Linked DNA regions of Homo sapiens. The protein of the gene in region 1 interacts with the protein of each later gene in a biochemical or structural test. Each region holds a gene or a part of one and is shown in the gene's direction. Other genes may lie near its edges.

Region 1 (3,500 bases):
AGATTTAACCAGTAATTGATTGATCTTAGGGATCAGGGTTGTTAATCTTTAATGCTGTATTAGTTAGTATGGGTGCTTCTTAGTGCATAAAAGGGAAAGGAGAAGGAAAAAGGAGATATAAAAGGAAGTTGAATAAAGAAGGATAAATATGGCTGGCTGCGGTGGCTCATGCATGTAATCCCAGCACTCTGGGACTTTGGGAGGCCGAGGTGAGTGGATTGCTTGAGTCCAGGAATTCAAGACCAGCCTGGGTAACAGTGAGACCCGTCTCTTAAAAAAACAAAAACCAAACAAAAACCCAGCCGGGCATGGTGGCATGCGTCTGTGGTTCCAGCTACTTGGGAGGCCAAGGTGGGAGGATTGCTTGAGTCTGGGAGGTGGAGGTTGCAGTGAGCTGAGGTTGTGCCACTGCACTCCAGCCTGGGTGACGGGAGTAAAACCCTGTCTAAAAAAAAGAAAAATATACTGCAGATAATTTTGATGAGGAGCGGGAGAGTGTATATTTCATGTGAGTTACTCACACTAATGTAGTTTCATGTTCTTTTGTTTCGTGATTTTTGCATCCAATCAACAACTCACAGTGTGTCAGTCTAGAAGTGCTCAGTGCTAGAAGTATAGTGGTGCATGAGGTAGTATAGGTTCATTTACAGGGATGTTAATAGGCATTTATAAATTGTTATGATTAATTGTTGTGAATGGTGCTATAGGAGCATGGTGGCATCTGACCAAGAGTTAGGTGGTTCTGTATTTTTATGTTTAATTATAACCCCTTTAGGATTATAATTTAAATTAATTTAAATATAAATCTTAAAATTTAGGTACATATTGGGTGGTGTTTCTTTTTATTCTTTCAGAAAACTGTTAAAGTATTTCATTGAATCTAAGATTCCAATTTCATAGAAGTCAAAATGTGGGGGAAAAATGGCTGATAATGATTCTAAGAGACTCAAAGATACATTCTGACTTTAGAGATGTTAACATGAAAAAAAGCATCTCAAATTAATGACTCTTTGGTACTTGTAATTGATAGCTTCTTAAAATGGAGGAGGACTCTAGTAAGAGAAGCTATAGTATCTGTTTATAAGTCAGTATGCTTTAGAGCAATCTGACTTTTTCATTATAAAAATGTAGGTTTTGGACTAGGCATTCTGGTGCTAAAACAGCTGCTGAGGCCAGCGATCACCCTGTTCTTTGTTCAGTTCCTCACGTTACTCATATAATTACCGTGTGATCGTGTGGTGCTCTGCTGCTTGTTGGTCAGAGCCTGAGTAAGGCTGAATAAGGCTGGATCATGAACCATTCTTTAAAGCAGTGGCCTTTGTATTGCAGTCTAGTTGACATACATGCATACATACAGGTGTGTGTGCACGTGTAACTGAAGAACAGCTTTCACAAAATAATATTTAGCACACTGTGGAATTTTCTCTGATACAGCCTCTTCTCTTTCATGATAAAAATAAATTCGCTGATTATCACACCACTTTGGACCTTTTAAAAATAACACTTAAGAAGTTGGAATAGCCAGGGATCAGAAACTTAGAAATGGACCTTATTTGTTATTGTAACTTATAGCAAGTCATTGTGTCTCTTATTGGGTTCTTTTAGCCATAATAATTGTGCTAGTTCTTTTCTTGCTCTGAGTGCCTGAACCTGTTGCTAAGTGAGGAAGAAAAATCCATATGTAAGTATAAATAAACAAATGTCTTTAATCTTTTTGCAGGTCATCATCAGATTTGAAATATTTAAAGTGGATACAAAACTATTTCAGCAATGCAGACAATTAAGTGTGTTGTTGTGGGCGATGGTGCTGTTGGTAAAACATGTCTCCTGATATCCTACACAACAAACAAATTTCCATCGGAATATGTACCGACTGTAAGTATAAAGGCTTCCTTCTGTTAGTAAAATGTTGTAAAATTTGATATCCTTTTGAAAACGCTTTCTCTATGTGTACTGAATTTTTTTCTGTTGTCTGCCTTTGTTTCCTGTTTTTAAAGATCTTGACTTCTCATGGGTAAATTATATACACTTTAAACAGCTGAAAAATCAGTGGAAAGTCAGAAGGGGTGACACAGGGTTTGCAAGAAGTGCTGGGAGGCAAAACTCCAGTAGACAAGATTCTAACGAGTGGTGGTCTCAATTTGGTGAAGTATGCCCTACATCTTGGAATGAGGTGACTTTTTTTTTTTTTTTTTTGATATTTTGGCCAATTATTGATCAGTACTTGGAGGTCTCCTGGGATACCATTTGAGGTCCTGTAACTTGAGAGAAAGTAGTATGTGTCTCCACTTTTCTTGTGGAGCTGTTCGCTTAGCAGTAATGGAGCTCCAAACTGGTTCTTAGGGGCAGAGAAGAGAAGACCTGTTATGTTTCGAGAACACCAACAGAGTCCTTTGGGGGTCACTCCCACAACTGTTCTTTTCTTTTTTTCTTTTTTTTTTTTTTTTTGAGATGGAGTCTCTATCGTCCATTCTATCTGGAGTGCAGTAGCGCGATCTCGGCTTGCTGCACCCTCCGCCTCCCGGGTTCAAGCAGTTCTCCTGCCTCAGCCTCCTGAGTAGCTGGGATTACAGGCGCCCGCCACCACGCCTTTCTAATTTTTGTATTTTTAGTAGAAACGGGGTTTTACCATGTTGGCCAGGCTGGTCTTGAACTCCTGACCTCAAATGATCCACCTGCCTCAGCCTCCCAAAGTGCTGGGATTACAGGCGTGAGCCACCATGCCTGGCCCCATAACTGTTTTTTAAATCAACTCTTTGGAATGGTAGAAGGAAGATGGGAATAACAAAAATATTGAAGTGAGAGAGAGACAAGAGTTAGAGTAACACTCATTTGTGAAAGGTAGTGAGACCCTGTCTCAAAAATAAGGAAAGTTTTTTTTTTGAAGGGGGGAGAATTTGAAGGTATTATTAAACACTAAAATCATATTGATATTTTGAATTGGCTCATTTGGAGACAAGATAAATGGAAGACGTTTTGAGGTTCAGTGGACTTACAGGGGACATTTAGAGGTACATGAATCTTGTTTCAGAGTGAGGACAGCTATCAGAATTTTTCTGTTTCAGTCTCCATTGAAGTTATTTACTTGTAAACATAATTTCTGAGTCTTTTATGACTTTGATCTTCTGGTGTTATATTTTAAGTGGGCTTGTGGGTGTTTTATATGTATGTTTGTGTTGTACATCTCTGGAAAAGTGATAGAGTGGAAGGAAGAGTAGTAGTAGAATAAAATTTTAAATGAACCGATTTAGGTAAATGAATGGACCATGAGGCACAAGTAATGTTCTCATGGTACCTGTTGAAGTTAATATGGAAATGGATTTGGTGTAGAATGCATTTAAGTTCCCATCTATGAGTTGGGGCTTGCCATTTCTAGAGTAATAGAAATTCAGAGCTGGATGGGACAATATATATTGTCTTACCCATCTCTTAATGGATGAGGGTACTCAGGCCCAATTTAGGGATGAGACTTAGAAGTCTAAGTTTAATTACTTAGCGTA
Region 2 (3,500 bases), on another chromosome or scaffold:
GTAAGAATAGGTGTGTGTTAAATTTTCTTAACTATAAAGGCATCAAACATTGCCTAAGGGCTCTTGATTTTTACCTAGCCACATGGGCTGGCTTCATCACAAAAACATCTGATGGGAGTGAGATGGGCAGTGACTGACTGTCCCTGCCTCATTTCTGAGACTGGCCACATGTTGGGATGAAATATGGCTGCTGGGGTAGTGGCCACTGAGAGATTTTTGTTAACGTCTTACCTTTCAGCCAAGTTACATGCTACAGTCAGAAGAACTCCGGGCCTCCCTCCTGGCCAGGTATCCCCCTGAAAAACTCTTCCAGGCAGAACGGAACTTCAATGCTGCTCAAGACTTGGATGTCTCACTTTTGGAAGGTGACCTGGTGGGTGTGATTAAGAAAAAAGACCCCATGGGCAGCCAGAACCGCTGGCTGATTGACAATGGAGGTAAGAATTTTAAGCAGCAGAGGACTGTAACTGGAAAAAAAAAATAGTAGTTTTGGCTGCACCCGAATCTGGACTAGGCCAGGAAAAAAAAGCAAAAAGTATCTTTGATTAAGGGGAAAAATAACCTGAAAAATAACCTTAACCTTCTCTAGAGAGTGAAGATCATTACTGAAACAAAACCTCTTTTTGTTTTGACAAATTCCAGAGGAGACACCGTTGCTTATCATGCAAGCTCTTGCCATATCTTACAGCACTTACAGGCAGGAAGTCCTGCCTCACGGAATCCTGTTCCTTCTTAGCCTGTTCCCAGTATGCCACAAAATAAGCTGCCCTCTTTTCAAATTTTTTTTTTTTTTTTTTTTTTTTTTTTTTGTGGCAGTCTTGCTCTGTTATCCAGGCTGGAGTGCAGTGGCACAATCATAGCTTATTACTCCTGGGTTCAAGGGATCCTCCTGTCCTAGCTGGGACTACAGGTATGCCATCATGCCCAGCTAATTTTTTAATAATTTTATAGATATTACGTCTTGCCATGTTGTCCAGGCTGGTCTCCAACTTCTAGGCTCAAGCCGTCCTCCTGCCTGGACCTCCTAAAATGCTGGGATTATAGGTGTGAGCCACCGCACCCAGCACCTCTTCCAGTTTCCATGAATTTGTCTTGTGGAAATTAAAAACCTGTGGGATTTCATTTGCTTTCTTCTCCCCATGACAGTTTTACCTCATGACTATTTAGGGAATTACTTTAAAAACAGCTTACAACTTTTTTGGAGGGAGAGTGATTTACAGAATTTAAGTAAGTGTACAAGGGATAATACTGATCTGTAATCCCTTTTTCCAAAATCCAAAAAGCTCTAAAAACACTTTTGCCAAAACCTGAATGAAGGTGATGTGAGACTATTTATAATTGTAACTTATCCTTTTGGTGTGAATAGTCATGTGTATGTATTTTTCATTTTTATTATTTTTTAAGACAGGGTCTAGCTCTGTCACCCAGGCTAGAGTGCAGCAGCACGATCTCAGCTCACTGCAACCTCTGCCTTCAAGCGATTCTCCTGCCTCAGCCTCACAAGTAGCACGCACCACCACACCTGGCTAACTGTTTGTATTTTTTGTAGAGACGGGGTTTCACCATGTTGACCAGGCTGGTCTCCAACTCCTAACCTCAGGTGTTCCATCCCGCCTTGACCTTCCAAAGTGCCAGGATTACAAGCATGAGCCACGGCACCTGGCCTTATTTTTTTTTAAATGCTTGATTGCAATCTGATTCAGCCAAGAGGTTGCTCACATCATGGGTGGATGACTACATCTCCAACATGAATGACACAAAAACATCAGAACTTTCCTATTTGCAATTATGTGAGATACTTTAAGTTTTAGTTTATAACTGACACATACTTGTTCATATCTATGGGGTACGGTGCGATAATTTTGAGATAGGGTCTAGCTTTGTCACCCAGGCTGGATTGTAGGGGCACAATCTTGGCTCACTGCAGCCTCCACCTCCCAGGCTCAAGCAATCCTCCTGTCTCGGCCTCCTGAGTAGCTGGGACCAGAGGCATGCGTGACCATGCCCAGTTAATTTTATTTTAGTAGAGACAGTCTCCCTGTGTTGCCCAGGCTATAAACTTGTCATTTCTTTGCAGAGATATCATTCAGAATCCTTGGCTTCTAGCCATCTTGAAATATACATTATCATTAGCTATAGTAACCTTACTGTGCAATAGAACACCAGAGCTTATTTCTCCTAACTTTGTACCTGTTGAGCAACCTCTCCCCAGACTCACCTCCCCTTCCACCACCCCCAGCCTCTGGTATCTAGCATTCTACTCTCAACCTCTATGAGATCAACTTGTCTAGATTCCACGTGAATGAGATTATATGGTATTTGTCTTTCTGCGCCTGGCTCATTTCACTTAACGTGTCCTCCAGGTTCAACCATGTGGCCGCAAATGACAGGATCTCATTCTGAATATTCATTAACAGAATTGATTACGGGGTGCTGACCCTGCTGGGGGGTTTTACAAAATATGTAGTATGGGTACTTGACTACCTTCCCAGAATTAAAAAGAATCTGAATTCCAAAACATATCTGGCCCTAAGCATTTTAGGTAGGGATTGTGGTCCCTATCTAGACAGACATTATGTATTCACCACCCAGAACTGAAAAATGTCACATTTCTTGGTTTCTTTAAAAGCATCTTGTGGATTTTTTTTCTCCCCACTTCTGCTTACACAGAACGAGAGATTAAAAGTGGGACACGAAGGACAGAGGATGGAGCCTGTTAGGGTGACATCAGGTGACAGCTACTGCTGGGGTCAGAGACAGATGGACCTAAAGTCCCAAGCTGTTTAAGAAACTGCTCCATCCTTCAGTTTTTATCTACTCAAACTTGAGAAGTGGTAGCAGGAAGCCACAGTATTCAGATCAGCTGTCAGGTACAGGAAATGCATCAAAGATCAATAGAGTAATGGCCATTGTTCTCATGGAGGCTACATACTCTGGGTCTGTGCCTTGACAGTGTTATGAAAAATTGTCACGTGGATGCTCACGCAATCCCTAATTTATACTTGAGTTTTAGCTGAAAGCCCCCTTGGTCATCTTGGGCAATTTATTAAAGTGAACCATGTGCAGTACACGTTACGTGTATATTCTAACAAACAGTTTCCTACGTTAGAACATCCTTCCAGTATATCCAGACTCTCAGAGCAAAGGATTCACGTGTCCTGGTGGGAAAGAGGGCAGGGAGGTCTATGGAGGGGCTTCTTGAGCTGAGGCTTTTTTTTTGAGACGGAGTTTCGTTCTTGTTGCCCAGGTTGGAGTGCAATGGCATGGTCTTGGCTCACTGCAACATCTGGCTCCTGGGTTCAAGCGATTCTCCTGCCTTAGCCTCCTGAGTAGCTGGGATTACAGGTGCGCACCACCACATCCGGCTAATATTTTCGTATTTTTAATAGAGACGGGGCTTCACCATGTTGGCCAGGCTGGTTGTGAACTCCTGACCTCTGGTGATCTGCCCTCCTCAGCCACCCAAAGTGCCTGGATTACAGGTATGAGCCACTGTACCC
Region 3 (3,500 bases), on another chromosome or scaffold:
GTAAATATTTTAGGCTTTGTGTGCAGTCTCTATCACAACTACTTAATTCTGCCTTTGTAGCAAGAAAGCAGCCATAAAAAAATTGGCGTGTAAACTTTATTCACAAAAAACATTTCTAGATCAGGGCCTGGCCTAGAAAAGGAACATTGAATAAAAAGACAAGAGAACAGAGACAAAACCCTAAAAACCTAAAAAGTCAGGAAGAAGTAGCCAACAAGATTAGAAAGGTAGGAAGAAAACTAGAAGGAAAGTTTTAAGATGGGAAGTAAGTGGTCAAGTCTGTTCAACGCTGATGAGAGGTCAAATAAGATAAAGGATATATGTGCATTTGGTTTAGGGACATAGTTTCAGTGAAGGGAGCAGAAACCATAGTGAGTTGGAATTAGATAAACACTGGTAGATATAGACAACACTGTGGTTTCTGGTGGAGAGGGAAACTTTTAAATCCTGGGGTAGGAGGTTCCAATAGATTAGAAGAGAATGGAAAACTCAACGTAGTGGTCTTAGGTCAAGAAACAAATGTAGTGGGAATAAATAAATAAATAAATAAATAAATAAATAAATAAAAGAAATACAGCCTGGGCACCATGGCTCACACTTGTAATCCCAGCACTTTGGGAGGCTGAGGCAGGCAGATCACTTGAGGTCAGTAGTTCAAGACCAGCCTGGCCAACATGGTGAAACCCCGTCTCTAGTAAAAATACAAAAATTAGCTGGGCGTGGTGATGCGCACCTGTAGTCTCAGCTACTCGGGAAGCTGAGGCAGGAGAATCACTTGAACCCTGGAGGCAGAGGTTGCAGTGAGCCGAGATTGCACCACTGCACTCTAGCCTGGGCGACAGCAAGATTTCGTCTCAGAAAAAAAAAAAAGAAAAAAAGAAATATGGAAGTAAAGGTATCAGAACTAGAACAAAAGTTTGTGGTAAAAGACTGACTTCTAAGGTTCGCAGATAGATTTCTGGATGATGATAAGGTTAAGACTGACCATGGGACCAGATGGCTAAAGGGAGGTACAGATGAAGCTCCTGACGTCTCAGTGTCTGAAACTTGGCCACTATATTAGCAGTCTATGTAACCATTAAAATATTCCAGGTAGCTCTGCAGATTAAATTACAGGGAGAAAGTGTAGAGGCTGAAAAAAAAGGCCGTAGAGTGAAGGTCTGGAATAGGCTAGTAGTGGAGAGTAACAGGCAAAAGGAGACCTTGTAAAGGAAGAATAAACCCTATTTGGTGATGATTAGAGGGAGAAGTTGGCGATCACACCACAGTTTCAGTTCCCTGGAGAATTCTGGTCCCATCGATGCACCGGACTAAACTTGGAGCTAATGAGTTCAGTTAGGTGTTCATTGACATTGAAGAGATCATCAAAAGCATTTCAAAAGTAGTCAGAGGTTGTTGGGAGCCCTAGGATTATATAACACATGGACGATTCTCTCTTTCACAGGAACTGTCGACAAACACTCAGTGGAGGTCACCAATTGCTTTTCAGTGCCGCACAATGAGTCAGAAGATGAAGTGAGTGGGAATCCAAGCTGTCCCTCTGCAGTTTTTAGCTGTTCATTTGCTCGGCTCCCCTCACGGTCCCTCCCACACTCATAACTAGAGCTCCTGTAGCCAAGGAGCTTCTTCCCATTTGTACGTACTTCCTGGGCCTCTTCTGTTTATTGGGGGTGGCCTCTTGTCCTTTTTAACCAATTTTTCTTTGGACTTCTGGCTTCTTAGCTTGCTTTCCTGCCTTCCCTCTTAGGTGGCTGTTGACATGGAATTTGCTAAGAATATGTATGAACTGCATAAAAAAGTTTCTCCAAATGAGCTCATCCTGGGCTGGTAAGTTGGGGAGGTGGGGGCTGGGGTTAATGGAAGGTCTCTTCGTGATTGCCGGTGTCTTTTGCTACTGGACTGGATCTTATACTCTTCCTTTTGGAGGCAAGAGTATTGCAAGTGTATTACTGACTGTGAGCAGTGGCTCAATGCCTGTAATCCCAGCTGGGAGGCTGAGGCAGGAGGATCACTTGAGCCCAGTAGTTCAAGATCAGCCTGAACAAAATAGTGAGACCCTGTCTCTACAAAAACATTTTTTAAAAACTTAGCCAGGCATGATGACACACACCTATAGTCCTAGCTATTCAGGAGGCTGAGGCTAGAGGATCACTTGAGGCCAGGAATTTGAAGTTGCAGTGAGCTATGATCATGCCTTGCCACTGCATTCCAGCCTGAGTGACAGAGTGCGACCCTGTCTCTAAAAAACAAAAGGAAAGTGTGTTACCTGTAGGAACTGTGAATTCAGTGGGTTTTGCTGGTGGTTCTGATCCTGTGGGGCCAGGATATTTCGAATTACCTTGTAAGTGACTTGGAATTTTTCATCAGCACTAAGTCAGCCTTTGATTTTATTTGACATAGTTTTCGGTGTGTGTATTGCTCTTGGCAGTTGGTGTCACTAGGTGTCCTACCGTAGAAGTGTCCGGTACCCTGAAGACACCCATGCCACTGTTGTGTTTGATATTGACGCCACATATAGACAGGAGTCCACCACTGTGTTCCATTTCACAGGTACGCTACGGGCCATGACATCACAGAGCACTCTGTGCTGATCCACGAGTACTACAGCCGAGAGGCCCCCAACCCCATCCACCTCACTGTGGACACAAGTCTCCAGAACGGCCGCATGAGCATCAAAGCCTACGTCAGGTGACCACAGTCTTGGGCTACAAGGGCATAAAACCATGCCCAGATGCCATCCCTCCCCCACCCCAAGCAAGGTTAATTCCTTCCATGTGTAACTTGCTGTGTCCTTAGGAAGCCTGTTCCTCTCTCTCAACAGTTATTCTAAAGGTTTCACTCTGAAACAAAATCTGTTCCTGTAATTTCTACCGCTGATCCTAGTTGTACTCCAGTTTCTACTCATTGCCCTTTTAAGTATTTGAGCAAGCTGTCAAGTCATCTTTTGTAGGACCTAACTATTCCATAGTTCCTACAGCCAATCATCACATGGTATTCTTGTCATGATCCTTCACCACATTCATTACTTTTCTGAATTACCCATTAGTTTGTCATTATCTCTAGAACTCAGCACAGCGCTCAGGGTAATACAGATTATAAGGATGACTGTCCTTATTTTGAACACATTTATTAACCCAGGATTGAGTGCAGTTTTAATGACAATGACATTACAGTGAACACGTTGAGCTTGCAGGTGGTTAAAATGCCAGTTATGGGGGATGTTGGGAAAGGCCCTGGTGGCATGCTGAGGAAGCAGCTGTGGTAGTTGGAAAGACCATGGTCAAAGGGAAGGCAGCTGTTAGTGCATCTGTCAGGCTGTTGATTTTGTGCTGGTTCTGTGTCTGACACTGACATAGCCAGTTAACTCTTACACAGTACACAGTAAGACAAAGATGGTGGATGCCAAGTCTTTATGAGCCAGTTGGCATACCACTAAGCACTAGCCATTGCCTGACTTCTTAACCTTCCCAGGTATTTCAGACTCCTCAAGATCCAGTATA
Region 4 (3,500 bases), on another chromosome or scaffold:
TCTTATTGTGAGAGTTTTGTAGCTGGGCATGGTGCTATACCTATAGTCCCAGCTACTCAGGAGACTGAGGCACAAGAATTGCTTGAACCTGGGAGGTGGAGGTTGCAGTGAGCAGAGATTTGCCACTGCACTCTGGTCTGAGTGACAGTGAGACTGTCTCAAAAAAAAAAAGTCTTGAATGACAGTGTGTCCATGAGACTTCCCAACCCATTGTGATTTCCTGCTTTCTTTTGCTAAAAACTGTTTTGACGTAGGAAACCCTAATACAAACACAAGATTTTCCTGTTTTCAGTAGATGATCATGCTACATCTCATAGACAGGAATAACCTTGTTGTTTAAAATAGTCACCATGTACCTAAATTAAAACATAACTTTTTTTTCCCTCCCCAACAGGTCGCTGAAAATTTTGTTCCCCCTCTGTTGGATGCAGTTCTCATTGATTATCAGAGAAATGTCCCAGCTGCTAGAGAACCAGAAGTGCTTAGTACTATGGCCATAATTGTCAACAAGTTAGGGGGACATATAACAGCTGAAATACCTCAAATATTTGATGCTGTTTTTGAATGCACATTGAATATGATAAATAAGGTGTGTAATATTTCAGTTATGTAAGGGGGAAATTCTGCAGGATAGCCTTAATTCTTGAAAGCTAAAGTATGTCTGTGGATATAACATAATTTTAATGCCATGGAGTTTAAATATTTAAACTTGTATATTAGGGAAATACTTTCTTGGTTTTCAAGAACTTACTTCCCAGGAGTTTGAAACCAACCTGGGCAATATAGTGAGACTTCATCTCTACAAAAAGTTCAAAAAGTAACCAGTCATGGTGGCATGTGCCGGTAGTCCCAACTACTCGAAAGGCTGAAGTGGGGGGGGGGGTCACTTGAGCCTGGGAGTTCAAGATGGCAGTGAGCTGAGATTGCGCCACTGCACTCCAAGAAGAAGAATTTACTACACAGAATCTTGATTGGTAAAAAGTAAATATGGAAAACAGATTTTAGCATTCACATGGTATGTAGCATTTATTGAAACCTCATAGGTCGGGGCATCCTTTTATGAACGTAGTTGTATTAATTGGTTTGAATAAATGAGAAAGTAAGTCTGCATGTTTCAATTATAAAAGTGTAGTATATGCTTATAAGAAACTGAAAAATGTGTTAACAAGAGAAAATAGGCTGGCCATGGTGGCTTACACCTGTAATCCCAGCACTTCAGAAGGCCAAGGCGGGCGGATGACCTGAGGTCGGGAGTTCAAGACCAGCCTGCCTAACGTGGCAAAACCCCATCTCTATTAAAAATACAAAAATGGCCAGGCGTGGTGGCTCAACACCTGTAATCCCAACACTTTGAGAGGCCGAGGCCGGTGGATCACCTGAGGTCAGGATTTCAAGACCAGCCTGACCAACATGGTGAAACCCCATCTCTACTCAAAGATTAGGCTGGGTGCCGTGGCTCACGCTTGTAATCCCAGCACTTTGGGAGGCCGAGGTGGGCAGATCACGAGGTCAGGAGATGGAGACCATGGTGAAACCCTGTCTCTACTAAAAATACAAAAAATTATCCGGGTGTGGTGGTGGGCGCCTGTAGTCCCAGCTACTCGGAGAGGCTGAGGCAGGAGAATGGCATGAACCCGGGAGGCGGAGCTTGCAGTGAGCCAAGATCGCGCCACGCACTCCAGCCTGGGTGACAGAGCAAGACTCTGTCTAAAGAAAAAAAATTAGCTGGGCATGGTGCCGCATGCCTGTAGTCCCAGCTACTCGGGAGGCTGAGGCAGGAGAATCTCTTGAACCCAGGAGGCGGAGGTTGCAGTCAGCTGAGATTGCGCCACTGCACTACAGCCTGGGTGACAGAGTGAGACTGTTTAAAAAGAAAAAAGAGATAAAAGATACGTTAAGTGGACACATTTACACGGTAACTTAAATTTTTTTGTAATCTGTAGTGGTGATTTCAAATTAAAAACAAAAGTGATAGTAGTAGTCTTATGGTAATAATGGTTTAGATGAGTTCTCTATTAAAAAGGTTGTCTTTCTCCTTCAATTTGATAACTCATGTGCGTAACGGGACAGTTTCATTTTCCGTGAGAGGTGGATTGTATTTTACTTGGGTTTACCTTTCAGGAGGCATTCTATCTTCTGTGGTTTATTGAAAACTCCAAATATTTATACTGGATTAAGCCTTGCTTTTCCCCTCCTGTCTAGCACAACAAAGACACTGAAACATTATTTTGTTTCCACCACTTATTTTTAGGACTTTGAAGAATATCCTGAACATAGAACGAACTTTTTCTTACTACTTCAGGCTGTCAATTCTCATTGTTTCCCAGCATTCCTTGCTATTCCACCTACACAGTTTAAACTTGTTTTGGATTCCATCATTTGGGCTTTCAAACATACTATGAGGAATGTCGCAGATACGGGTAAATAAAAGATGTTCTTTTATTCATTTGCCTGCCAATCCAAAAATACAAATATAGTTAATTGTACATAGGAAGGTATTACTTGTTCAGAGTTTTGAGTGTGTGAATTACATATATGAACATCTGAGAAAATCCTATAAGCAGTTTAATCAACTGTTCCACTCCACTCCAAGTGAGTCCATAGGCAGAATTGAGTTATGGGGAGAGCGGCCTAGTAATAATTGGTTTGCGTAATACAAAGTTCTACTGGGTAGTGATGTTGTAGAAGTTCATATAGAATCAGCTGAGCTTTCAGAAATGGTGAAAGGGTGGTAATAGTCATAACTTAGATTGTAATTTTTTTCCCATAGGCTTTTAAAAAATATTCATGAGGTTCTTTTTTTATTTCAATAGTTTTTGGGGAACAGGTGGTTTTTGGTTACATGAATAAGTTCTTCAGTGGTGATTTCTGAGATTTTGGTGCACCTGTCATGTGAGCAGTATGAACTCTACTTTATGTGTAGTCTTATCCCTCATGTGTATGAACTCCACCTTATGTGTAGTCTTATCCCTCACCCACTCCTGCCCTTCCCCACAAGTCCCCAAAGTCCATTATATGATCTTTATGCCTTTACATCTTCACAGTTTAGCTCTCACACAACTTATTATAATTTATAAGTAAGCCAGCATTGGATATAGTTGTATTCCATTATTAATTTAAGAAACCTTATGCAAGTAATTATTAGTCATCATCCCAAAAAAAAGGGAGAACAGGGTTAGATTCAGAATACTTTGATAAGAGCTAAATACTATCATGAGTGCTGTCAGTCTGTAGTAACTTTCCATTGGTATTCTATGTCTTTTAGGCTTACAGATACTTTTTACACTCTTACAAAATGTTGCACAAGAAGAAGCTGCAGCTCAGAGTTTTTATCAAACTTATTTTTGTGATATTCTCCAGCATATCTTTTCTGTTGTGACAGACACTTCACATACTGCTGGTAAGAATTTAATACGATTTAAATGTTAAGTGCCAGCTGGGCACAGGGCCTCACGCCTATAATCCCAGCACTTTGGGAGGTCGAGGCGGGGAGATTATGA
Region 5 (3,500 bases), on another chromosome or scaffold:
GCTAGGACTGCCATAATAAAATACCACAGCCTGGGTAGATCAAATAACAGAAATTTGTTTTCTCCCAGCTCTGGAAGCTGGAAGTCCAAGATCAAGATGTGGGCAGGTTTGGTGTGTTCTGAAGCCTCTTTCCTTGGTTTGCCACCTTCTCACTGCGTCTTCACTTGAAGACTTTCCTCTGTGTGAGCACATGCCTGATGTCTCTTCCTCTTTGTATGAGGACACCAGTCAAATTGGATTAAGATCTCACCCAATGGCCTCATTTTAGCTTAATCACCTCTTTAAAGACCCTATCTCCAAATACAGTTGCCTTCTGAGGTCCTGAGGGTCAGGAATTCAGCATATCACTTTTGCAGGGGACATAGTTCAGACCGTAATACTGTATGTGAAAACAAAAGCCTTTTCTGTCCCTTGAGTTTTCTTTGTGTTTGTAGAAGTCAACACACCAAGTAAAGATTTTAGAAAGTCTGGCTTTTCTATCATGAAAGTTACTTAACATTGAAATTATTCTTAAAAAGAAATTAATTCTGAAAAGTGTGACTTCTTAAAAGTTCATTGCTTGGGTTGGGGTGGGGTAGGAGGGCAAGGCCCAGCAAGTGGGTAGGCATGTGATCCGACACTACTGAGAGCCCAACTAGTCTGGGAAGCCGGACACAGGCACAGCAGATTCTGATGCAGGAGATGACTGACCACACTGGGAAACTGCTGCTGAGTCCCTTCCCTTCTTGCGTCTCTCCTGCACCCGAATCAGCTGCCTTTCCTGCCATGCTCCCATCTCCAAGGGAAGAACCAAATGCTGGGAGGCCCAGTCATCAGTCAGCCTCATTCCCACCCAGGCAGATCCACCCACAGCCACTGAGCAAAGCTGTGGCCCCTCAGACTAGCCTCCAGGTCCATCCCTCCTCTGCCAGGCACTCAGCAGCTTGTACCAGCAGGACCCATCCTCACCCTCTGAAGGACAGAGCTAAGCCCTGTCCACTGACAGCTTTGCTCCCCCAGGCCATGCTGAAAGCCTTGCACACACCATTTCATTTAATCTGCTCAGCAACTTCCCATTTAACAGATGGGAAAAACAAATTCCCATCTGAATCTGCCAGGTGGCAGAGCAAGGATTCAGAACCAAATTTGCCTGACCAAGGTCTCATGTTCTCCCTTTTTCATTCTATAAACCCACTGGTAAAGCCCAAAGGACTCCTTTTTTTAAAAAATTTAATTTTAATTTGTTTTTATTTTATTTTATTTTATTTTTAGAGATAAAGGGCTCACTTTGTAGCCCAAGCTAGTCTTAAACTCCTGGGCTCAAGCAGTCCTCCCACCTTGACCACCCAAAGTGTTGGGATTATAGGCATAAGTCACCACTCCCAGTCCCAAAGGGACCCTTTTGTGTCTACGTTTAAATGCATAAAATAAAATACAGAGAATTACAAAGGAAACTAATTTATTAAAATATGTACTTCTTTATTAATGGTTTAAACAACAAGATCTAGCAATGGATCTAAACGTTGCCAGCATGTTGAAAATTGTTGGTGTGTAGTTGTAATATGATGTGAAATATCACGTGAAAACTATGGGTGAAAGAATATCAGATATTATGGTTTGTGGCCTGCATTCATAATCAAAGGAAATGCTACATTTCAGTTAGTGCTTAGTAGAAATAATATGTACTTTTTTTTCATACAAGTTCATGAACCCTTGAATTCTATCCACAGACTCTGGGTGTGAGGATCCAGGCAGGAATGCCTGGTCTGTTAGGATCCGTGCTCTAGGGCCAAGGCCTTCAGTAAGATCTGGCTGTGGCTCTGATGTGGGCTGTCAAGTCCATGAGAGGAGGGAAGCCCTCCTCTCCCAGGGCCTTGGGGCTCTACTTCTCTGGGGAAGTTGGAGGCTGCCAGGAAAGTAAGTTCCAGTCTGCAACACTAGCAAGCCCCTCTGAAATAGGGCTGATTCTTTTGCCCAGATCTCACAGTGCGGTGGGGTGATGCTGGGAGCCCTTCAAGTGGCAAGCACTCGGCTTGTTTGTGTGATACACAGTTCTTTCACTGCATATATATTTAGTAAGAACCCTACTTTGTGCCAGGTATTGGCAAGACCCCATGGAGTCCATAGGCTGGTGGAAAGACAGCCAAGAAGTGGGCCTGGTGTGGCCGGTGGGCCCAGTGTTGGGGCACACGAGCTTGGTCTTTGATCCAGGGGCTGAGTGAGGTGGCAGTATTGGAGTCTGGGGTTTCTCACACACTTCCCTTGAGGCCCCAGCCTGGAGAAGTCCAGACCGTGCCCAGCAGTTGTTCAGCTAGAAGGGAGGAGAGAGGACATGGCAGCCTCCCTCATCTGTGTTACCATTGAGATTGGAAAGGGACAGTTAATCTGGAGGGGAGTGAGAGATGGGGCCAGGGAAAGCAAGCCATGCAAACAAGTTCGCAGAGGAAGAGAGGAAAGAGCACTTAGTTCTGCATCACCCTCTAAAAAGTGAGAGCCCTCACCCGTAGACCCTCTCCCCACTGTCCATCTGAAGTGGCCAGGAAGGAAAGGCAGCACTTCTTTCAATACCTCAGACCCTTTAATAGCATCTTGCTCCCTGAACCTTGTTTTTGCCTGCTAATTTCTGCAATCTGGCCTTGGCTCTGGCCCCAGCCATGACTGTTGCCATTTCTCCCACACTAGCCCTCTGGACCATGAAGTTAACACGCCCTCCCTGGAGCTGTCATCCAGAAGTTAATATACAAGTCAGTTAGTGCACAGACAGTACTAAAACAGCAGCAACAGAGAATTGTAAAATAATTAAGGAGGCCTTTCAGGGTGGCAGCCCCTGAAAGGGTCCCCATTCCACAGTCTGCCCCCTAAGCTGTGCAGGACAGAAGTTCAATTTGATCTCTGTTACGAGAGCCGAACTCATGACAACCATACCCATAAGAGGTTCCTGTTAGTTGACCAGAATATCCACCCTTTCCTAGATATTAGGATCACAGAATGACAGAAAGTTAATCGGTGAACGTGGAGTCAGACAAAATAGTCTTGAGGGATTTTTCATCAACCAAGCACGTGGATGCACTGTTCCCACAGCCCATCTCTTGGGCCCACCGGGCAGACCAGGCTATCCCCCTTCCTTGGTAAGCCTTTCCCAACTCTGATCATACCATTGATTTGGCTCCAGCATCTTTCGCAGTAGTCAGGCCTGAATCAGATCCCTTTCGTTCCTGCTGGTCCTAGGAGACGTCTGACTCCAAGGCCTCTGAATGTGCCGCTGGAGATGCCCCTTGATGGAGGACCCCCTAACACAGGCACCCAGTCCTGCTCACAATGCCCATGTGGCCCTATGGGTGACTAATTGATGTCATGCCAGAAAGAGCAATTTAAGAAACAGACTTTAAAAGAATCCTTGCCTGAGACAGTCTCTTACTGAAAACAGATTCCAGCCTAGTTAACAGGTGAGCTGTGGCACTAATTCGCCTGCCTGAAAGTGTTTATCAGACCATTAAAAGGGCAGTGAGTGAGTGAGGCAG
Region 6 (3,500 bases), on another chromosome or scaffold:
GGAAGGGCGAGGAGTTGGAGGATAGGGGCTTCCCTGGGGCCTTCCATGCAACTCACTTTCTTTTTTTCCTAGAAATGGCAGAATCACTGGGGCAGGGTCCTGCGGGAGAGGAGGGAGAGGGGGGAGGTCAGCATGGGCAAGACCTCGGGCATCTAAAATACCCCATCTGAAACCTAGTATGGCCGTCCAAGAGGGTCCCCAGCTGGCTGAGTCTGAATTTCTGCACCTCTCTCTAGGCCCCGAGGCTCCTGCCCTCCCAAAGACAGCTGCTCAGCTCAAGAAAGAGGCAAAGAAACGGGAGAAGCTAGAGAAATTCCAACAGAAGCAGAAGATCCAACAGCAGCAGCCACCTCCAGGGGAGGTGAGGCGAGGGTGGAGCTGGAAGGAAAGTTGATGTGTGCGGTGATGGGTTGGCTGATGCCTGGGCCTATGTCTTCTCCCTCCCAAGCAGAAGAAACCAAAACCAGAGAAGAGGGAGAAACGGGATCCTGGGGTCATTACCTATGACCTCCCAACCCCACCCGGGGAAAAGAAAGGTACTAGGAGTGGGAAGGGGCTCACCCCTCAGCAGCCCCTTCTAAGTTTTCACCCTATCTTGCTCTATTCTTGCTCTCACCACTTTGTTTGGTGAGGAATTGCAGACCCCCTGCCCTGCCTCTAGGCCCCTCAAATGCCTGTCCTATGATGTGAGTGACGGAGATCCCGATCCCTCTCTGCCAGCACGTCTCCTTCCCAGAGTGCTCCCAGCCACGGCACTGAGCCCTCCCTTCCTCTCCCCCAGATGTCAGTGGCCCCATGCCCGACTCCTACAGCCCTCGGTATGTGGAGGCTGCCTGGTACCCTTGGTGGGAGCAGCAGGGCTTCTTCAAGCCAGAGTATGGGGTGAGTAGGCACTGCTGCCCAGGCCCAGAGTGGGTGGGGTGGGGAAGGGCAGGACTGAAGGATGTGTTGCCTGGGAGGGGCTGGGAGAGGTGACCTGAGGCCTTAAACATGTGCCATCCTTCTCCACCATCAGCGTCCTAATGTGTCAGCAGCAAATCCCCGAGGTGTCTTCATGATGTGCATCCCACCCCCCAATGTGACAGGCTCCCTGCACCTGGGCCATGCACTCACCAACGCCATCCAGGACTCCCTGACTCGATGGTGAGCTTCTATCTGCACCTTCCTCTGGTTCCCTCTGCCTAGTCTGGCTCTCTCCTTTTCCCTGACAGCCCCCCGAGCCTCTCTCCTTCTGGGTTGGTGCTCACTTCTGCCCCCAGTGGTGCTACACTTCTCTCTGTCATTCCAATCTGATCATTTAGCTTCCTCTCCTAGTCCAGTACTCCCATGCAACACCGCCACTTGCAGACTCTCTTCTATCCCTTCTTTCTTTATTTAATTTTAATTTAATTTAATTTAATTTTTTGTAAAGATGAGTTTTCACTTTGTTGCTCAGTCTGGTCTCCAACTCCTGGCTCAAGTGATTCTCCTGTCTCAGACTCCCAGAGTGCTGGGATTATAGGTGTGAGGCACCACACCCAGTCTCTCCCTTCTTTTTCTAGTAACAATAACATTATTTTGAATTTAATTAGGAACATATGAATATATATATTTTTTTTTGGGGGGACAGAGTCTTGTTCTGTTGCCCAGGCCGGAGTGCAGTGACGCCATCTCGGCTCATGGCAACCGCTGCCTCCTGGGTTCAAGTGATTCTCCTGCCTCAGCCTCCCAAGTAGCTGGGATTACAGGAATGCGCCACCACAACTGACCAAAATATATGAATATATTCTTGTAAGAAATTTAAAGTTTCAAATCTCCTTGACCATCCCCCTCCACACCTACTTCCTCCTAAGATTTAGCCATTGTTATCACTTTGATGTGTATCTTCCCAGATCTTTCCTATTTACTTACATATACACGTACCCATAGAAATTTATAGTTCTCCTTTTGGGTGAGTCTTTTCTATTTTTTAACATAAAGGGTTCATATTACACTTGTTATGATCTAGCTTTCTTCTTACACTTAATACTTTCTCTTGGAGATCTTTCCTTGTCCTTACACACATACCACACATACTGACTTCCTTCTTTTTAATTGTTCCATAATATCTCATAGTGTGGCTGTACCATAGTGAAGTCATTCTTTTTTTTTTTTTTTTTTTTTTTTTTTTTGAGACAGAGTTTCACTCTTTTTGCTCAGGCTGGAGTACAGTGGCATGATCTCGGCTCACCGCAACCTCCACCTCCTAGGTTCAAGCGATTCTCTTGCCTCAGCCTCCCAAGTAGCTGGCATTACAGGCACCTGCCACCGCGCCTGGCTAATTTTTGTATTTTTAGTAGAGATGGGGTTTCACCATGTTGGCCAGGCTGGTCTCAAACTCCTGACCTCAGGTGATCTGCCTGCCTCGGCCTCCCAAAGTGCTGGGATTACAGGCGTGAGCCACTGCTCCCGGCCTGGAGTCACTTTTTAATTAATGATTCATTCTGTTTTTTGTTTTTTGTTTTTTTTCTGTTGAAAACCTTACTCTAATGCACATCCCTGTATATCAAGTTTGTCCAACCTGCAGCCTGTGGGCCACATGCGGCCCAGGACGGCTTTGAATGCAGCCTAACACAAATTTGTAAACTTTGTTTAAACATTTAAGAATTTTTTTGCGATTTTTTTTTTTTAGCTCATCAGCTATCGTTAGTGTTAGTGTATTTTTTTAAATTTATTTTTATTATTTATTTATTTATTTATTTTTTGAGACGGGTCTTGCACTGTCACCCAGGCTGGAGTGCAGTGGCACAGTCTCGGCTCACTGCAAGCTCCAAACTCCGCCTCCCACGTTAACGCCATTCTCCTGCCTCAGCCTCCCAAGTAGCTAGGACTACAGGTGCCCACCACCACGCCCGGCTAATTTTTTTTTTGTATTTTTAGTAGAGACGGGGTTTCACCATGTTAGCCAGGATGGTCTCGATCTCCTGACCTCGTGATCCGCCCGCCTCGGACTCCCAAAGTGCTGGGATTACAGGCGTGAGCCACTGCTCCCAGCCAGTGTTAGTGTATTTTATCTGTGGCCCAAGACAATTCTTCCATGTGGCCCAGGGAAGCCAAAAGATTGGATACCCCTGCTCTATATGCTTGCTGAAGCATGTGTGGAAGGGTTTCGCTGGTGTAGCTATCAAGAAGTGAAACTGCTAGGTCGGCAGGGGCACACCTATATTAAGTACAAACGGAAGCTGCCAAGTTGCCCTGCAGAATGGCTTTGCTGATTGATACCTCCAGGAATTGCTGTGAGAGTGTTCATTTCCCCACCCTTGCTAAGCCTGAGCATTAGGGTTGCCTAATTAGTTTTGCCAATCTGATGGGCAAAAAAATACCTCTGTTGTTTTACTTTGTACCTTTCTGATTGCTATTGAAGTTGTGCCTATTTTCATGTTTTTTGGCCAGTCAGGTTTACCCATATGTGAATTGTCTGTATCTATCTTTTCCCCGTTTTTCTATTGATTCTTCGTTCTTTTTCTTTTTAATTTTTTTTT
Region 7 (4,108 bases), on another chromosome or scaffold:
ATTCTACAGATGAAGAAACTGAGAGTACAGAGCCTGCACTTAAACACTAAGCTATCGTTTTCTATAGGCATCCAGCCTACCCAGGACTCACCTCTTCAAAGCACTTGACAACGGAAAGAAAAATTACGGCAAACTCTAGAAGGGGATGCCTGGCGCATGAAGCAGAGCTCTGAACACCTAAGGTGATATTTAAAGCTGAGGCTGGAATCGTTCAACGTAGGCGCCTTTCCTTGGTCAAAGCGCGTTTATTTTCATACATCATGGAGTCAAACTACAGGCGCGTAGAGACGAGTACACTAGGGAGTCAAGCTGGCAGCTCACGACAAATGCCCTGGCTAGACTCTCCTGGGACAGCTGAGCAATGCCCTTGCAGGAGAAATGACATCAGCCACTCCTGTATTTGTCCACATGTGTATTGGGCCTTACTCAGGGAAACATTTACTGAAGCCTGCAAGCATTAGTGTGTCGCTCCCATTCACCGACTTTCCGAGGTAAATATTATGAACTATCCCATTTTACTTAGGAAGCAACTGAAGTTTAATAAGGTTAATTCCATTGCCTGGCGACGCCCAATCAGGGGAGAGGATTCTAACTCAGTAATCTTTGACTCCAGAATGCAACTATCTCTTGCATACCCTCTGCTTCCCAAAACTCTCCGGCCTCCATTTCTCCCTCTTCTCACGTTTCTAAATTGCAACCGAATTTGGAGTGAAAGGGAGCAGCAGCCGAGGCAGGAGAGTAGGAGGTGGCCAAAGTCCTCTAAGAGCCTCTTCCCTTGCGGCCCCGCTGCCCAAGGCTGGGCGCGAGTCCCAGGGCTTTTTCAGAGATCCCTAGACCTCTGCGTGGCGGCCCCTCCCTGAGAGCACCCGGTTACCGTGACTGAACGGCGTCCTGCGGCTCCAGGCCTCAGCCACCTGCTTTTTCAAGGTTTCTTCCGTAACAGCGTCCGAAAACTCCGCCATCACCTCCTTCTTTCCCTTTTTTCCCACCCGGGCTGGGCCGGGCTCCGCTGGCCGCTTCCCATTCATCTCTTCCCAAGGCACAGAACCACGCCACGCAGATCAAGACGCTACCTTCCTGAGGGTACTGCAACTCCCGGCATGTCCCCTTTATCGTGTTTCCCGGCCCTACCCAATGGGAAGCACCAAAGTAAGAGAAGGCGGAACCTATACCCGGTTTACCAATGGGAGCTCCAGCTATTGCAGCCATCCCACCAGCAATTGGCCCACTGGAGCTCGGTCTGGCAGGCCACCGCCCCTCTACTTCCTGCCGCCAGAGGCTCCGGGTTCACTTCCGGCGTGCCTACGCCTCCTCTTGCGCTGTCCTGTTAATGGCGGGCAGTAGCCGCTGAGGGGATTGCAGATAACCGCTTCCCGCACGGGGAAAGTCTACCCTGCCTGCCACTTTCTGCTCGCCGTCAGCGCCGGAGCTCGCCAGCATGTCTGTGGTACCGCCCAATCGCTCGCAGACCGGCTGGCCCCGGGGGGTCACTCAGTTCGGCAACAAGTACATCCAGCAGACGAAGCCCCTCACCCTGGAGCGCACCATCAACCTGTAAGTGCGGCGCGGCCTTGGCGGGCATTTCTCTCGTGAAAGCTCCTATAGACTCTCCGACGCGCCCCCGGCTTTTCGGCGCGCTTCACGCCTCTGCACCTCCCCGCCTCCAACTCCCGCTGGCGGATGCGCGCCTTCCTCCCTCTCTCAGGCCCCTTTCTCATCCTCCAGCCTCCAGGGTTAGAGTCCTTTTCTGAAAGGAAGGCTTGTTCCCATCCTATGTATTCGGTCATAATGGGGAAAAACGGAGTTTGCTTTTAACTCATCCTTTCCCCACCTCTCCAGAGGTAACCGACTTCAAAATGTGTGTTTTTTTAATCCTTCCAGTGAATTGTTTATGCTTTCGCATCACGTACATGGTATTGCTTTGTGAGTGTTGATGTGATACGAATGGTATAACCTAGTATCATTTTTGCAGATTTCACTCTGACAGTAAGGTTTCGAGATCTAGCTGTAATGCCTAGGTCTAGTTTTCTTCCTTTTAGGTGCCACTTAATACTTCAGTTTTTGAATACAACACATTTTATTCATGTGCTCAGGGCTGTCTGCCCTGCCCCATGCCTTATGCCTTCGCGTCGTCTGATGTCTCAATGCCGGCATCCCAGGCACCACAAGTAGGCCCCTCCTTGGGAGTAAGGATGCTGCTATGGTTGGGCTTTCAGACTGGAGGGAACCAGAATGTTTGTACCAGAAAACCCATTGTGGGCTGTGTTTTATTTTCAACACCTTTCTGTTTCAACACTTCAAACCATTGCATTTCAAGGTCATTCTCAGAAGCAGACTCGCTGTAGCAGGTAATTGGCGTTTGGGGTGTCTTAATCAAGAAATTGTCAGTAATGCTTTTTAAAATCGTTTCTGAGGATTTGTTTTCGAGGCAACGCGGTGCCTCCATTTTATGCCAGGATGGAGGAAAGTGGCCAGTTTATGCCAGTCAGGGTACAAGTGCAAGGATTTGGTGGTATTGATGTTTTCGTAAGGCAGTTTAGGTGTTTCTCTGTTTCATATTAAAATAAACGGACATTGTCTCCCCGTCCCCCAACCAAAAGTGATTTGAAGTTGAAAAGATGGTTAACATTGTTTTATTTTGCAAAACGTGTTGGCTTGGAAATTTAGATAATGGAAATGCTGGGTTTATAAAATCTGGAATTAGTTGATAGTTGTGTGTATAAAAGTTCTCAGGAGTGGCGGCTCACGACTGTACTCCCAGCACCTTGGGAGGCTGAGGTGGGAGGATCACTTGAGGCCAGGAGTTGGAGATCAGTCTGGGCAACATAGGCTGTCTCTACAAAAATTTTTTTAAAAATTAAGAAAAAATCCATCAAATGGTAAAGGCAAATGTTATCCTTTTTAAAAGTGTGAAAGCACAGCTTCTGGATTACTTTCGGTGGTTATTAGAACTAAAACCCACAGTCTTTTCTTGTTTTGTCTTGATTACTGAATTAATTTGCATCCAACCATTTTGTAGAATTGGCAAAATAGTTAGCTTTCAGTAAGATATTTTAATCTTCGCTCTATTAAAATTATGGGTTGATTTACAGTACATTTCCTCTCCTGTGTAAATACAAATATTCAGAAATAATAATTGTGTTGTGAACTTAAGTTCACCTGAGTTAACATTAAGTTGAAAACAAATGCCCTCTCCCCCAGTATATTTTATTTTAGGAAATATTGCATGAATGCCTACTTTGTACCAGGCACTGTGCACAATACTGGATATACAGTGGTGAGGAAGTAAGGTGTAGCCCCTGCTTTATGAAGCTCACAGTATGATGAGAACAATATGTATGTCTGGGCTGGCACTCTGATTTCACAGGTGAAAATTCTGACATTTCATCTTCACATCTCCTTACTGATATATTGGAGCTGGCTCTTGCAACAGAGATGTGTAATGGCTATCCTTAATTCTTTCTAACTCAGGTTGTCAGAATTAAATGTTAATATATGTAAAGCGTTTTAAAAAATTGCTTGGCACGTCGTTCTATGTAGCATATCTGCTGCTGCTATGGATGATGGTTTTAGATTTAGCATTGGATCTACCGGGGATGTTCTTTAAATTTTTAAAGCATCCTGGAATGGTATATTTTAATTATTTTAGAGCTTTTTCATATGCCTAGAACTTGGCTTCTGGAATTAAAGTAATTTTTAAAGTTTTGGCAACCTTGATTTTTTCCCCTTTCAAGAATGGCTGAGTGGGGTAGATACAATAATGTTGACTATTAATGTCAAGGGCTTTTGGTAGAATAGATACCTTGGATGGGCAAATGTGGCCTAAATTCGTACTCAAAGGCTTCTTGCTGTAAGGCTTTAATTAAGGGCTTACAACATATAAGTATGGATTTTTTAACTATCTTTAAAGAAAAATTTGATCCTTATTAGGCAAGATGAAAACTGTCTTTAACAGTTTGAGCCATATTTTAAATTATTGGTAAAGGAAGAGAGTTTTCGATTAGATATGGTGGGTAGAAGATTCAGATGAGGAGAAGGAAACAATAAGGAGACTGAATAGAATAAATGCCAAAGGCTAGTAAATAGGTTTAGAGGACAAAAAGAGAAA

Evidence for each region.
Region 2: the proteins of CDC42 (region 1) and DNMBP form a complex in vitro, tested with the Homo sapiens proteins (one large-scale study listed by BioGRID).
Region 3: the proteins of CDC42 (region 1) and EIF3F form a complex in vitro, tested with the Homo sapiens proteins (one large-scale study listed by BioGRID).
Region 4: the proteins of CDC42 (region 1) and XPO1 form a complex in vitro, tested with the Homo sapiens proteins (one large-scale study listed by BioGRID).
Region 5: the proteins of CDC42 (region 1) and WIPF1 form a complex in vitro, tested with the Homo sapiens proteins (one study listed by BioGRID).
Region 6: the proteins of CDC42 (region 1) and VARS1 form a complex in vitro, tested with the Homo sapiens proteins (one large-scale study listed by BioGRID).
Region 7: the proteins of CDC42 (region 1) and NUDT21 form a complex in vitro, tested with the Homo sapiens proteins (one large-scale study listed by BioGRID).

Annotation. Positions count from the first base shown.
Region 1 is NC_000001.11:22,076,709-22,080,208, forward strand, and holds part of CDC42 (cell division control protein 42 homolog isoform 1 precursor), read left to right. Parts: intron 1-1,720; 5' UTR 1,721-1,770; coding exon 1,771-1,875; intron 1,876-3,500. UniProt on the Homo sapiens protein: Plasma membrane-associated small GTPase which cycles between an active GTP-bound and an inactive GDP-bound state. In active state binds to a variety of effector proteins to regulate cellular responses. Involved in epithelial cell polarization processes.
Region 2 is NC_000010.11:99,880,948-99,884,447, reverse strand, and holds part of DNMBP (dynamin-binding protein), read left to right. Parts: intron 1-238; coding exon 239-437; intron 438-3,247; exon of another isoform or gene 3,248-3,345; intron 3,346-3,500. UniProt on the Homo sapiens protein: Plays a critical role as a guanine nucleotide exchange factor (GEF) for CDC42 in several intracellular processes associated with the actin and microtubule cytoskeleton.
Region 3 is NC_000011.10:7,990,337-7,993,836, forward strand, and holds part of EIF3F (eukaryotic translation initiation factor 3 subunit F), read left to right. Parts: intron 1-1,444; coding exon 1,445-1,515; intron 1,516-1,747; coding exon 1,748-1,827; intron 1,828-2,550; coding exon 2,551-2,688; intron 2,689-3,500. UniProt on the Homo sapiens protein: Component of the eukaryotic translation initiation factor 3 (eIF-3) complex, which is required for several steps in the initiation of protein synthesis.
Region 4 is NC_000002.12:61,482,857-61,486,356, reverse strand, and holds part of XPO1 (exportin-1), read left to right. Parts: intron 1-394; coding exon 395-589; intron 590-2,251; coding exon 2,252-2,420; exon of another isoform or gene 2,421-3,265; coding exon 3,266-3,400; exon of another isoform or gene 3,401-3,500. UniProt on the Homo sapiens protein: Mediates the nuclear export of cellular proteins (cargos) bearing a leucine-rich nuclear export signal (NES) and of RNAs.
Region 5 is NC_000002.12:174,587,805-174,591,304, reverse strand, and holds part of WIPF1 (WAS/WASL-interacting protein family member 1), read left to right. Parts: intron 1-3,500. UniProt on the Homo sapiens protein: Plays a role in the reorganization of the actin cytoskeleton. Contributes with NCK1 and GRB2 in the recruitment and activation of WASL.
Region 6 is NC_000006.12:31,789,253-31,792,752, reverse strand, and holds part of VARS1 (valine--tRNA ligase), read left to right. Parts: intron 1-236; coding exon 237-361; intron 362-448; coding exon of another isoform or gene 449-451; coding exon 452-536; intron 537-781; coding exon 782-882; intron 883-1,015; coding exon 1,016-1,143; intron 1,144-3,500. UniProt on the Homo sapiens protein: Catalyzes the attachment of valine to tRNA(Val).
Region 7 is NC_000016.10:56,448,533-56,452,640, reverse strand, and holds the start of NUDT21 (cleavage and polyadenylation specificity factor subunit 5), read left to right. Parts: upstream 1-1,308; 5' UTR 1,309-1,438; coding exon 1,439-1,554; intron 1,555-4,108. Other genes in the region: prolyl 3-hydroxylase OGFOD1, read right to left, coding at 875-1,028. UniProt on the Homo sapiens protein: Component of the cleavage factor Im (CFIm) complex that functions as an activator of the pre-mRNA 3'-end cleavage and polyadenylation processing required for the maturation of pre-mRNA into functional mRNAs.